Homo sapiens: one gene and its partner. The protein of the gene in region 1 interacts with the protein of each later gene in a biochemical or structural test. Each region holds a gene or a part of one and is shown in the gene's direction. Other genes may lie near its edges.

Evidence for each region. The genes of interacting proteins can lie anywhere in the genome.
Region 2: the proteins of THAP12 (region 1) and DNAJC3 form a complex in vitro, tested with the Homo sapiens proteins (2 studies listed by BioGRID).

What each region holds. Positions count from the first base shown.
Region 1 is NC_000011.10:76,350,128-76,357,150, reverse strand, and holds part of THAP12 (52 kDa repressor of the inhibitor of the protein kinase), read left to right. Parts: intron 1-1,496; coding exon 1,497-1,533; intron 1,534-4,356; coding exon 4,357-6,287; 3' UTR 6,288-7,023. UniProt on the Homo sapiens protein: Upstream regulator of interferon-induced serine/threonine protein kinase R (PKR). May block the PKR-inhibitory function of DNAJC3, resulting in restoration of kinase activity and suppression of cell growth.
Region 2 is NC_000013.11:95,672,723-95,680,158, forward strand, and holds the start of DNAJC3 (dnaJ homolog subfamily C member 3 precursor), read left to right. Parts: upstream 1-4,416; 5' UTR 4,417-4,533; coding exon 4,534-4,615; intron 4,616-7,436. UniProt on the Homo sapiens protein: Involved in the unfolded protein response (UPR) during endoplasmic reticulum (ER) stress.

The sequences.
Region 1 (7,023 bases):
AGTGCTATGTAAATAGTTGTTCTGTTACATTGTTTAGAGAATAATGACAAGAACAAAAATCTGTGTGTTCAGTATAGACACAACCATCCTTTTCTTTTTTTTTTTTTTGAGACAGAGTCTCGCTCTTGTTGCCCAGGCTGGAGTGCAAGGGTGCGATCTCAGCTCACCGCAACCTCCGCCTCCCGGGTTCAAGCAATTCTCCTGCCTCAGCCCCCCGAGTAGCTGGGATCACAGGCATGTGCCACCACGCCCGGCTCTTTTTGTATTTTTAGTAGAGACGAGGGTTCTCCATGTTGGTCAGGCTGGTCTTGAACTCCCGACCTCAGGTGATCCTCCCGCCTCAGCTTCCCAAAGTGCTGGGATTACAGACGTGAGCCACCATGCCCGGCACAACCATCCATTTTCAAATAATACCTAGATTATTTATGATACTTAATACATTTATGTGTTTGTAACACCTACTACAATGTAAATGCTATGTAAATAGTTATGCTACGTTATGTAGGGGAAGAATGAGAAAAAAAGTCTGTACATGTTCAAGATAGATACAACCATCCATTTTTTCCCCAGCATTTTCAATGCATGGTTGGTTAAATCCATAGATATGAAGTGTAATATGTATCAGGATGAGGAGCTCAATCACTTGCTGTCCTGTAGCTATCATTTCCCTGTAGTCTGTCCCTCAGAGAGCCTCACATATCTCACAGCAGGCATACTCTTCCTGACCCACCATCCTTATAAACGTGCAGTCCGTAGGATAAGGAGGGGATGTCCAGGTTGACCAGCCTGCTGATGTTTCTTGTTATCAGCACCATGTCCAGTGCTGCCCAACAGGCATCCTGCTGTCTTCAGCTGTCACTGGCATTGCTGCTTTTCTGCCACAGAAAGTAACAGGTGGCTCATGATTTAAGCATTGTAGAGGGTTGGAAGGAAAGTAAAGGATGCAGCTGGAAAGTTCTTCCTTTGTCTAACCCTATTGGTGCCACTTGGCCTACTATGCTCTGTGTATGCTCTGTGTATCTCTTCCATGCTGGTACTTTCACCTTCTGCTTCTCAGGGATTTCTCATCACTTTTGTGTTGAGTCCTGAGATTCAGCAACCTCCTTCTTATGGGACATCTCCAGGGTTAAATTGGGAAGTAAGATGATTTGTGTCCTCTTGAATTTAACTCCAAGTGCCATGGTGTATTTTTGTGCCTTTCATTAGCCAGTAAACACTTATAACCCAAAGTTACGATGATTTAGGTAGAAAATAAGCAAAATGATGTATTCTTTTTTCCCTAAGACTTTGTTATAACCTTGGAGTCATTAACAGCTTATTCTGGTTTTCTCATTGTCTGTTTGTTTGAAGAATGTGTACTATATAAAGAATTTATGCTCTTGAAAGAATTAAATTGACTCAGAATAGGCATTTGTATTTGTGAGTCTAAGATGATACACTAGAGGTCAGTTTTTTAAAGATGATTTGTTTTTTTCTTTTTTTTTCTTGACATTTAGAGTGAAGATGAAATCAGGACACTGAAACAGAAAAAAAGTAAGTGATAGTGTTAATGACTCAACTTCTGAATGCCTTTTAAAAAGGCCTTGACCTGGTAAGGACAAATAAATATGTTCTGTGTTGAAAACCTACCTTGAGAATGAATGTAGGAGTGTGCTCAATTTTGTCCTGTGTTTTGGAATTATCTATGAGACTAAAGTCTAATTTTAGTTTGTCTTTATTGAGTGCTGCAATGCCACACACTATGCTATATGCAGGCCTCATGGAGGTGACGCCTCCTCTCTCAGTGTGGTAGGGGTGGCAGGCACACAGTGCTCCATTGTAGGGAAGGAAGGGCAACAGTAGAGGCATGCACTGAATCTCTTTTTCTGTCCACCCAGTTGTGGTATGTAATAAATTCTTTGTAAATGTTTAAGGACTAAATGCTGTGGGGGCACATAGTGCCATTGTGAGTAGTGGTCACAACAGCCTTTCTGGAGGTGCTGATGTCCGAATTATGTCACCAAAGGACGAGGGCTAGAAGCTGTTTTTCTTCTTGTCAGTTATTAGTTACTCCTCCTCCTCTGTTTCTTCCTCCTATTGCTGTTATTATTAACGTAGCATTTTATTGAGTGCTTACTGATGCCAAATCATTGTTCTAAGTGCTTTACTTGTATTAATTAATTTAATTCTCACAATAGCCGTGAGATAAGTACTGTTATTTCCCTCTTTATGGATGAGGAGATATGGACTTGGGCAAAGAGAGGGAAAGGTATTCTGTGCACGAAACAGGGTGCTGTTTTGGGGAACTACACTCATTTTAGTGTTGTTAAAGTTTGTGATAACCCATTATGGTTAGAAAATAGCCTAGAGAGGACCCCAGAGGCCAGAACTTGCAGACTTGTGGGCTATTAGCAATAGGGAACCACTGAGGGGTTTATAAGTAGGTGATAACAGGGACCTGATTTCCATGGTACATAGAGTACTCTGTTGGATTAGAAAAGGTAACACTGGAGGCATGGAGGCTAGTTAGACTGTCAACTGACCAAATAAAAGTTGAAAGGCCTTGAATTAAGGCAATGGTAGAGAGAGTAAAGGGAATAGATTCAAGGAACTTAAGAAATTTGTATACCTATGACACCTAAAAAGATGTCCAAAAGAAGAGGGACTTGACTTTTCAGTTTGAACTCTTTGCTCTTTAATGAACTTCTTTTTGAAAAAAATAAAAGCAAGAGAATTAGTACTTGTTAATTGGAAGTGGAGAAATAATGGAGGAGAGAGGGAGGGAGCCAGACAGGCAGGCGTCCAGGATAACCTCTTGCTTTCTGGCTTGGGAAGCCTCCCTAGTATAGAACCACTGCTGTGTCACATATAATGAATAGCAGTGTCATCTGATTTGAGGAGGGGTGAAGGAAGGATGCTCCCTGCATTTTTCTGAACCCTTATGAAGCTCTGAAGCATGGCTCACACAGGCTCCGGTCAGACTAGATTTCCCTTTGTACTTGGGCAGCCTGCTTCCCTCTTCTACCTTAGTGCTTGTGCTAGAATAATTCTCACCAACTGAAATGCCCTCCTTGTTCATGTCCCCCTTATTTATCCTTGTCATCAAATGCAACTTCTGAATTTTTGTTTCTCCCCACCGCCCTCCATAGTCTTTTTTCTTTTTGAGACGGAGTCTCACTCTGTTGCCCAGGCTGGAGTGCAGTGGCACGATCTCGGCTAACTATAACCTCTGCCTCCTGGGTTCAGGCAATTGTCCTGCCTCAGCCTCCCGAGTAGCTGGGACTACAGGCATGTGCCACCACGCCCAGCTAATTTTTGTATTTTTAGTAGAGATGGGGTTTCACCATATTGGCCAGGCTGGTCTCAAACTCCTGACCTCGTGATCCACCCACCTCAGCCTCCCAAAGTGCTGGGATTACAGGCGTAAGCCACTGCACCCCCGGCCCTAGTCTTATGTTCTAAGAACTAGGTTTTAACTGTGCCTCCTCAGATTTGGATTATTTTCCTGCAGACACCACTGACCTGTATGACTATGGGCAGGGCATTTAGCCTGTAGGGCCTCAGTTTTCCTATCCCCTGTGAAGAGATTAGGCTAAGATGTGTGATATTCTAATACTAGCCCTAAGAGTTACATTAATCTCCTTTATATTATACTGGTTTGTACAGCTGTCCCATCTCCCATATAAATGTGTGGCATAATGGTTTGATAAAAACAGCATCAGCATGGATCTTGGAGCCAGACGCACTTGGATTTCAACTTTACTTCCATTCTTCTAACTGTATTTGTGATCTTGGGCAAGTTACTTAGTGTCCTTGTTTGTCAAGTGGGGCCGATACCACCTGCCTGAACAGAGAGTAATGTGATGCATATAAAATACTAAGCACAGTACCTTAGTAATTAGTTCTGTCCCACTTTGTTTTTCTGAGGGCATGGACTGTCATTCATTACATATGTGGAAAGTCTTGTTAAGTGTATTTTAAAAATTAGGCCGGATGTGGTATCTCACACCTTTAATCCTTGTACTTTGGAGCTGAGGTGGGAGGATCACTTGAGGCCAGGAGTTCAAGACCAGCCTGGGCAACATAGTGAGACTCCCCGCTCTACTTCTTAAAAAAAAAAAATTATTCCTATCTTGTAACAGCATTTACATCTAGGATTAAAATATATCTCTTTACACTGTTTGTCTCTCCCACTAGGATGTGTCTTATCTTAGTGTCTTATTTTAATCTCTGTCCTAGTCTGTGGTCTAGTAAATACCCTATGAATATTGAATGAATGAGTTTGTGGATTTTAAATATTTAACCAAAGATGTAATATTTTTTGTTGTGTATGGTTTTTCATGAGCCTGTTTGTAAAATTAATTCTTTGTTTTCCAGTTGATGAAACTTCTGAGCAGGAACAAAAACATAAAGAAACCAACAATAGCAATGCTCAGAACCCCAGCGAAGAAGAGGGTGAAGGGCAAGATGAGGACATTTTACCTCTAACCCTTGAAGAGAAGGAAAACAAAGAATACCTAAAATCTCTATTTGAAATCTTGATTCTGATGGGAAAGCAAAACATACCTCTGGATGGACATGAGGCTGATGAAATCCCAGAAGGTCTCTTTACTCCAGATAACTTTCAGGCACTGCTGGAGTGTCGGATAAATTCTGGTGAAGAGGTTCTGAGAAAGCGGTTTGAGACAACAGCAGTTAACACGTTGTTTTGTTCAAAAACACAGCAGAGGCAGATGCTAGAGATCTGTGAGAGCTGTATTCGAGAAGAAACTCTCAGGGAAGTGAGAGACTCACACTTCTTTTCCATTATCACTGACGATGTAGTGGACATAGCAGGGGAAGAGCACCTACCTGTGTTGGTGAGGTTTGTTGATGAATCTCATAACCTAAGAGAGGAATTTATAGGCTTCCTGCCTTATGAAGCCGATGCAGAAATTTTGGCTGTGAAATTTCACACTATGATAACTGAGAAGTGGGGATTAAATATGGAGTATTGTCGTGGCCAGGCTTACATTGTCTCTAGTGGATTTTCTTCCAAAATGAAAGTTGTTGCTTCTAGACTTTTAGAGAAATATCCCCAAGCTATCTACACACTCTGCTCTTCCTGTGCCTTAAATATGTGGTTGGCAAAATCAGTACCTGTTATGGGAGTATCTGTTGCATTAGGAACAATTGAGGAAGTTTGTTCTTTTTTCCATCGATCACCACAACTGCTTTTAGAACTTGACAACGTAATTTCTGTTCTTTTTCAGAACAGTAAAGAAAGGGGTAAAGAACTGAAGGAAATCTGCCATTCTCAGTGGACAGGCAGGCATGATGCTTTTGAAATTTTAGTGGAACTCCTGCAAGCACTTGTTTTATGTTTAGATGGTATAAATAGTGACACAAATATTAGATGGAATAACTATATAGCTGGCCGAGCATTTGTACTCTGCAGTGCAGTGTCAGATTTTGATTTCATTGTTACTATTGTTGTTCTTAAAAATGTCCTATCTTTTACAAGAGCCTTTGGGAAAAACCTCCAGGGGCAAACCTCTGATGTCTTCTTTGCGGCCGGTAGCTTGACTGCAGTACTGCATTCACTCAACGAAGTGATGGAAAATATTGAAGTTTATCATGAATTTTGGTTTGAGGAAGCCACAAATTTGGCAACCAAACTTGATATTCAAATGAAACTCCCTGGGAAATTCCGCAGAGCTCACCAGGGTAACTTGGAATCTCAGCTAACCTCTGAGAGTTACTATAAAGAAACCCTAAGTGTCCCAACAGTGGAGCACATTATTCAGGAACTTAAAGATATATTCTCAGAACAGCACCTCAAAGCTCTTAAATGCTTATCTCTGGTACCCTCAGTCATGGGACAACTCAAATTCAATACGTCGGAGGAACACCATGCTGACATGTATAGAAGTGACTTACCCAATCCTGACACGCTGTCAGCTGAGCTTCATTGTTGGAGAATCAAATGGAAACACAGGGGGAAAGATATAGAGCTTCCGTCCACCATCTATGAAGCCCTCCACCTGCCTGACATCAAGTTTTTTCCTAATGTGTATGCATTGCTGAAGGTCCTGTGTATTCTTCCTGTGATGAAGGTTGAGAATGAGCGGTATGAAAATGGACGAAAGCGTCTTAAAGCATATTTGAGGAACACTTTGACAGACCAAAGGTCAAGTAACTTGGCTTTGCTTAACATAAATTTTGATATAAAACACGACCTGGATTTAATGGTGGACACATATATTAAACTCTATACAAGTAAGTCAGAGCTTCCTACAGATAATTCCGAAACTGTGGAAAATACCTAAGAGACTTTTAAAAATAGGCTTTCTTATATTTGATATTTGGAAGAAAAAGCCGTAAGGTGTATGTAGACCACTTAATCACTAAATATCTTTGCCTATAGGACTCCATTGAATACATTAGCCATTGATAATCTACCTGTTTAAATGGCCCCTGTTTGAACTCTCAAGCTTTGAAGACCTACCTGTTCTTCCAGAAGAGAACGTTGAAAGTGCCATGTTTCCTTTTGCGTGATCTCTGTTGATGGCACTCTGGAATTGTTTCAGTTAAGTCATTTTAGACATAGCATTTATTATCACTGTGGATCTCTACTTGTTGGGTGTTATGAATTCTTTGAAGAAATATATTTTGAAGAGGTGTGGGAGGAAGGAATACATTTTATAAAATGTTGTAGTGAAGCCCACAATTGACCTTTGACTAATAGGAGTTTTAAGTATGTTAAAAATCTATACTGGACAGTTACAAGAAATTACCGGAGAAAAGCTTGTGAGCTCACCAAACAAGGATTTCAGTGTAGATTTTGTCTTTCTTGAACTTAAAGAAACAAATGACAAAGTTTGAATGGAAAAGCCTGCTGTTGTTCCACATCTCGTTGCTGTTTACATTCCTTTGTGGAGCCTACATCTTCCTAAGCTTTTTAGCAGGTATATGTTGAACACTTCTGTTTCATGGTTGAGACAGAATCAGAGGCCATGGATACTGACAACTGATTTGTCTGTTTTTTTTCTCTGTCTTTTTCCA
Region 2 (7,436 bases), on another chromosome or scaffold:
AAAGACTCTTTAAATCACACTTCAAAACTTTTAGCTCATAATTATAATAACACAACCTATTATTTAAATGCACTCACTCACATTTTAAAAATAAAAAATACAGTGAACAGCATTTTTCTTTTAGATATTTTACTAGATTGTTTGGACTAGAATATAACTAGAATGTGTATGTAGCAATAGACATTTTAAAAACTCAAATAACCTACAATTTTCAAACTGAGAGAAAAAGAAGAACATCAAAAAGAGGAGAAAAGAGCTGGCTTAGGCAACTGTTATCTCTGTAAAGGGCTAATTCTCTTTCTTCTGCAAGGAAAGGAGATAAAATTCGATGCAGAAAAACTCATCTGTACACAAATACACAAAAGAGAGTCACTGCAGTTGATTTAAAAATACTCAGGCCCTTCACAATATTTTAAATAAACTTCTATTGCTGAAACAACTTTCAAGTAAGGGCATAAGGATAATACAGGGAGGTCCCAAATACCCCTTATTTTTCTGTATTGTTAGCATCTTGCATAACCATGGTACATTTGTCAAAACTAAGAAAGTAATAATGGTACACTACTATTAAACTTGAGACTATTCATATTTCAGTAGTTTTTCCACTAATGTCTATTTTCTCTAGGATCCAGTTCAACACAGCACACTGCATTCAGTCATCAATTAAGTTTCCTTAGTTTCCTCTGGTCTGTTACAGTATTTCAATCTTTCCTTGTTCCCCACGACGTTGATAGTTTTGAGGAATACTGATCAGGTGTTTTATAGAATGTCCTTCAATTTTAGTTTGATTTTTTTTTTTTCATGTTTAGACTAGATTGGGTTATAGGTTTTGAGAATACCACAGAGGTGAATTGCCCTTCTCATCACAGTATATTGGGAGTATATGCTATCAACATGACTTGATGATATTAACTTTGACCACCTGGCCAAGACAGTGTTTCCAGGTTTCTGTACTATGAAGTTACTCTCCTCCTCCCTTTCCATACTCTGTTCTTTGGAAGTTAGTCACTAAGTCCAGCCCACACTCAAGGAAGGAGGGAAAATAAGCTCCACCTGATGAAGGGGGACGTATTGTGTTAAGCTGAATAACGGTCCCCCAAATATGTTTACATTCTAATCTCCTGTCATTGTTCTATAGCAAAAGGCAGTTTTTGCAGATGTGATTAAATTGAGGAACTTGAGTAGGAAGAATATCCTGGATTATCTCAGCAGGCCCAATATAATTAATTACAAGGATCCTTGTAAGACGGAGGCAAGGTCAAAAATGACAGAAGGTGATGTGAATACAAAAGCGGAGATTATAGTCATGCGGCCAGAAGCCAAAAAACAACATAAAAGAGGGTGGAAAGCAGAGAAGACAAGATGTGATATAAAAGCCAAATTTTATATGAAGGTACCAAAATTTGATCAGAATCCCAAAATCCTTGAAAATAAACTGTAAATTTGACATATAAGGGTCATTTTTTGTTCCTCAGATTGGCAAAAACTGAAAATCAATTATATCTAGTGATGGTGACTAGGCAGGAATATAAACAGCTGATAGGAATAGAAATTATTCCTTTAGGGAAAGATAATCTGACAACGCATCTTAAAAGTTTAAACAAATTCTTTGATTAAGCAAGTTCAAAAACCTAGTTTTTTTTTTTTTTTTTTTTATAAAGTGTCACTCTGTTGCTCAGTCTGGAGTGCAGTGACATGATCTTAGCTCACTGCAACCTCAAACTCCTGGGTTGAAGCAATCCTCTGCCTCAGTCTCCCTGAGTAGCTAGGGCAACAGGCACGAGCCACCGCACCTGGCTAGTTTTAAATTTTTTTGCAGAGACAGGATCCTGCTATGTTGCTCAGGCTGGTCGCAAACTCCCGGCCTCAAATAATCCTCCCATCTTGGCTTCCCAAAGCGCTAGCATTACAGGTGTGAGCCACTGCGCCCAGCCTAGAAATGTTTCCTAGAAATAAAAGCACAAGTTTGTAAACATAAATGTGGAAGGATGTATATGGTGGCATTAACTTAATGCTGACTTTTTTGTTCTTAATTTGGCACAAAAAGGTGTTTATAAGTGCTCTACTTGTTTCTGAACATTTATTTCTCCTCATAGTTAATTCCTAAACAAATCTTATTCCCTTTACCTACAAAATATGTTCTAGATCTGTTCACTCCTCTCTACCAACATTGTTTTTCCTAGTCAATAAACATAGATCAACCTAATAAAAATTGCATAATACTCTTAATTTTGGATATATCATAAATATGCTACCATTGTTTTTTAAGTCTTTTGCTACTATAATTAACAGTATGAATTACAGTGGAGATTTAATGTTTAACTTCAAAAAGACTCCATAGAGTCTGACGAATGCAAACATATTTACAGTAACTTTTCTTACACTCACTAGATTACTTTGATTTTCGGTTTTATTGGCAAGAGTGATTCGTGAAAACCATGACTAGATGAACATTGGAGGAAACATTCCCAAGCATTAATCACTTAATTTTAGTTTTGTACATTTTTTTCTGTCTAATGTTACCTTTGTTGTAAAATTATCTTTTTTTAAGGAATGCTTTGTAAAGCTTAGTTCTAATATTACAGAATTCATAGTTATGTAATTAATCTCAAAATCACTCACCATTGAAGACCCTTGCTATTTTTATTTCCTATAACACGAAGTCTATTATCTCCTTAATAATTTTTAATTTCCATCCTTAGAACTTCTTCAGCTCTGCTACTTTTTCCTTAAGGCCAGGGTCATAGGCAGCACACTGGTGATAACTCACTGTCTAGAAATATTGCATTTTGTTTACAAAGTTATTTTCTATGTTCAGCATTTTGCTGGCTGCCTTGGGTACAGTACCTCAATTGAATGTCTACACCTGCATATTTGTGGACATTGAAATCATCTACCATTTTTCAGAGACACTACCTTGTGATATAAAAAAACAGAAGCCAAAAAAAAAAAAATCCCAAGGAATTTCTGAAGGAGCCTCTCTTCACTACTCTGCTCTTGTTAGAATAATGAGTAACACTGGTATAACATTCTACAATTTACAAGAATATTTATCTGCTTCATGAAACCTCAAAACAAACCTTTGAGACTATCAGGATCCTAACCACTTTACAGATGAAGATAACTTACATAATAGTTATGGGGTTTCCTGGATCTGACTCCTTTATTCTTCACATTACATTATGTTGCCTTCCCCACAACTAATCAAGGACTCCGTTTTTTCTTTTTTCTTTCTCGAAACCATTTCCTCCATATTAGTTCCCTTTGGAATAGAAGCCTTTTTAAAAGTCCACCTTAGTATATCTTCAGGGAATCACAAATTCACTATGCTATTTATAATTCATGAGTTTCTCTAATGGTATCAAGGCAGCAAATACAGGTGAAGTAATAATTATCCACCTGATAGTACTTAACACACATACCCCGTGTAAAAATACTGCTGGTGTACAGTGTGTGTGTTGGTGACGCCGGAGGAAGTGGCCGTGAACAGGCTTAATGCCGCATTGAGTAACTTCAACCTCATCTTGCTCAGGTTCATATCTCTCCTGAATTTCCCCTGGTAAGCGCAAGATTCAGGATCCGTTCTCACAGTTTTTTGTTTACCAGTTGATGTTGGCTGCATTCAGGAACGCCTTGCTCTCTTAAGCCACAGTGCCTTCCTGGTCTCTTCTTCACAGGGTCTTCCACAATCGCTCTTTTTCCTGGGCACGGTGGTTTGCTGAAAGTCGGGGTGGGGGGCGGGGCGTTCCCAAGTTTCCAGGCCAATTACCTACCTGCCTTAGAGCAATTACGCACTTCTCTCTGGTAGTCCCTGAAATGTTCTAATCATCAGATCGCCCCAGCTTCTCCTGACCGTTTCTTGCTTACGGCTCAGTTCAGACAGTATTTGTTCCGGGACGCTCAGCGGGAGGCGGTTTTTACCGGCTCACTCGAGACCCCAATTCCAGGCGCCCTGCAGCTTCCCTCAGACTCCCCGGGACCGTGTTTGGCCTTCCCATTCGTACGCTGCGGCTGCGCTTTCCTCTCGTAACACCACGCTGGCGAACCTGGAAAGGATCAAATAGTCCCACTCGCCAACCTAGCGCGGCGGGACCGGCCCAAAAGGGCCTTTGCAGCCTGCGCATGCGGACTCGGCGGCCGCCACCGACTCCCCGTCTGCTTCCCTCCGGGCGGCAGCCGCGGTTTGGAGCTTGCTGACAGCTCTGCGACCGGCGGGCGCAGCCTCGTCTCGTGCTTCCACGTTATCCTATCAGGGACGGGGCGGGGCGGCGGCCTCCGCAGCCTATCAGCGCGAACCACGACCCCGGCGAGCCCGGGAGGAAAGCCGCCAGAAAGAAGGCGATTGGATGGCGGCGGCGCTCTGGGGCGTAGCGTCGCCCGGGCCCCGCCCACCGCTGCCTTCCTCTGCTGGGCTCCAGAGCCACTGAGGCCTGAGCGAGAGCCGACGGCGGGCGGGCGCAGCTGCTGCCGGAGCGCCGGCGCGTGCTGGTGGGCCACACACCTTTCCTCCTCTTCACTCGCGAGCCCTCGGACATGGTGGCCCCCGGCTCCGTGACCAGCCGGCTGGGCTCGGTATTCCCCTTCCTGCTAGTCCTGGTGGATCTGCAGTACGAAGGTGAGTCCTGCCCTGCCCCGGCCAGGAAGTGGGCTCCCGGACCAGGCCCCCCGCGCTTTCCCGTCTGCGCCCGGGCGCCTGTCCCGGAGCGGCTCGGGAGGTGGGGCGAGCGCTGGGGGAGCCCGCGGCCTGGCTTGGGCCTGAGCCCGCGCCCGGTTCCGGGTTTGTCTGGGGAAGAATCGAGGGGACTGGCGGGCCGCGGGGCCGGGACAGCGGGTTTGGACTAAGGAACCGGGCCGCAGGAGTCGGAGGAGGCGGGGTGCGGGGGCACCGGGCTACGACTTCAGGAAGTCCTGGGACGCGGAGACTTGGGCAGCCTTTGGGTCCTGGCCTCGCTTGGGACCCTCGCTGGGCGCCTGGGGACACTGTCAGTCATTGGTGCTGGCTGGGAGGAGGCACTAAGGTGGCCAAAAGACTTCCTTCGCTCTGGAGTTCTTGGGTGGGGAAGGAGTGTCATGTCCGGCTGGGAGTTGGAGGGGACAGTGTTGACTATTTAAAAAGTGTGTAACCATCCCCATTAAGATGCACTGTCGTGTAGAGAAATTGTTAGTTTGGTGCAATGAGGAGCCGCTGTTGGAATTCCATCTCCCGGACGGCCAGGCACTGAGTTTGTGGTTTTACAACTCCCAACATGGTGTCATTCAACGTATGGCTGGCATTACTTTTCCAAGTTCGCTGTAAAAAGGTTCCCTTAAAAAGATACGAACGATTAAATTTCACTTCAGTCCTGCAGACTGGAATGTTGGCTACTCCAGAATAGCGAAAATAGAGGGCTGTCCTATCTTAGATGGCAGCGGGGAGGAGTAAGAATTAAAGTTGATAGTGCCGATTTAACGAATGCTTCTGGCGCGGTTACTGTGCGAAATATTCGAGTGTAATGACACATCACATGCACTGATCTATTTTCATCCCCATAAAAAGGGCTAGTTGTCAAGGAGGTCAAATTAAACCTTTGAGTATTCCATTCAAAGGGAGCGAGGAACTAAAAATTGGGAATTGTTTATAGTGAATTCTTCTGAAAGTTCTCAACTTTTTTTTTTAAAGTAGTACTCCCCAGTTTTTAGGTGTCACCCATAGCAATGGGCTTTTGCTTTTGCTTCCCCTGGTAACCATATTTTTTGAACCCCAAATCAGAACACGTAGTGTGGCAACATTGGGACAAAGAATTTGACAGTGAGGCTGCCCCCAGAAAAATCTAGGGGATTGGAATTTGAAGGTCTGTACCACTTTAATATGGGTCATATATTCTAGTTCTTTTGCATTTTCAAAAGCTTCATTCCTCCTGCCCCCGCACCCCACCATCCCTCATCTGTAGTATTTATCTCCAGTTATCATTAATAATTTATTTTGGACACTTAAGAGAAAGTTGCCTATGTTCTGTTTAATGGTGATTTTTTTTTTTAAGTTACAGAGATGCACAATTTTGAATGATTGCTTTTCCCACTACTTTTTAGAATTGCTGTTCTGTATATGAGTCTGTAAGGACTCTTAACTCTTCATTTCCCTCCTGTGGTATTTTCCATAAGAAAACCACATTTGAGAGCTTTTCTGTGTAGGAGGCACTGGTGACATTTCTCAGAGGAGTGCCAGAGTGTCTTCTTTAGGACCATTGTCTGTGTAAAATAGCAGGGACTTAGTACAGGTAACAGAAAAAGGAAAGAAAGGAGCCTTTCTGTAAGCCATATCTTATTCACGAAAGCGTGTGGTATTCATTCCTACTTTACAGACCAGGGAACTGAGGCTCCAAAGGTTTTACTAAAGTTCATTTTGTGTGCACGCTGGAGACAGAAGTTAAGTAGTTGACAACATCATGTGAGTCCAAGCACTTTTAAGTGATGGCAGCTGAGAAAAAAAATCAGCACTTTTTTTTTTTTTTTTTTTTTGTAATTAACAAGAAGGTTATTTCCTGGGAGGTTTAATACAGTGGTTCTCAAACTTGAGTGTGCATCAGAATCGCACATGGAGGGCTTTTTAAAACAGAGTGCTGTACCCCACTTACAGAGTTTGATTCATTAGGTCTTGATGGGACCTGAAATTTTGCGTTTCTAGAAAGACCCTGGATGACCACACTTGAGAACCACTGGTGTAATAAATTATATAGAGGAGTTAAATTAGGTGTCTGCTATGTATTTGACACTGGATTTGGTGATAGGGATATAAAGGTAAGAACTCTGACTTGAATTAGCAAACCGTTAGCCCCTGTTTTCCCAAATAAATTGTGTCTGGATTCACTAATCTCATAGTTCTCTGAAAGGCAAATGGTGCTACTGCTAGGCCTGAGGCTTAATAAAATTGTGTTGTATTAAGGATTTTTGTTAAATAGGTAGGTTTTAGCTGCTCTTGTCACACAAAAAGTAATTATGTGAGATGATAGATATATTAATCTGCTTCACTCTTATTAATCTGCTTCACTATTGTAACCATTTTATGTGTGTATATCTCATAATACTATGTTGTAAACATCAAATATATACAATACAATTCACTTTTAAAAAAAGAAATGAAGGAGAATGGTTATGAGAGAAGTGAATGTGGAACTAAGAGTGGCACAGGATGGGGAAGAGATAACCTAGTGTTTTTCTGATTTTGAAATATTTGCCTTTGTTTTCTTCTAGATTTTTCTGTTAATTGTCATCCAGAGACAGAAAGTATATATCATGAATTGAAAGTTTGAGTCTTTTGGCACCCTCCCTTCTCAAAGGCGTTTGAAAGAGTGAAGTCTAAAGCACTAGATGAGATCGAATTTTTGGAATAGAAAGAAAACTTTAGTAGTATCTGCTTTAGTATTCTCATGTTACAGATAAGGAAGTTATTTCATTTC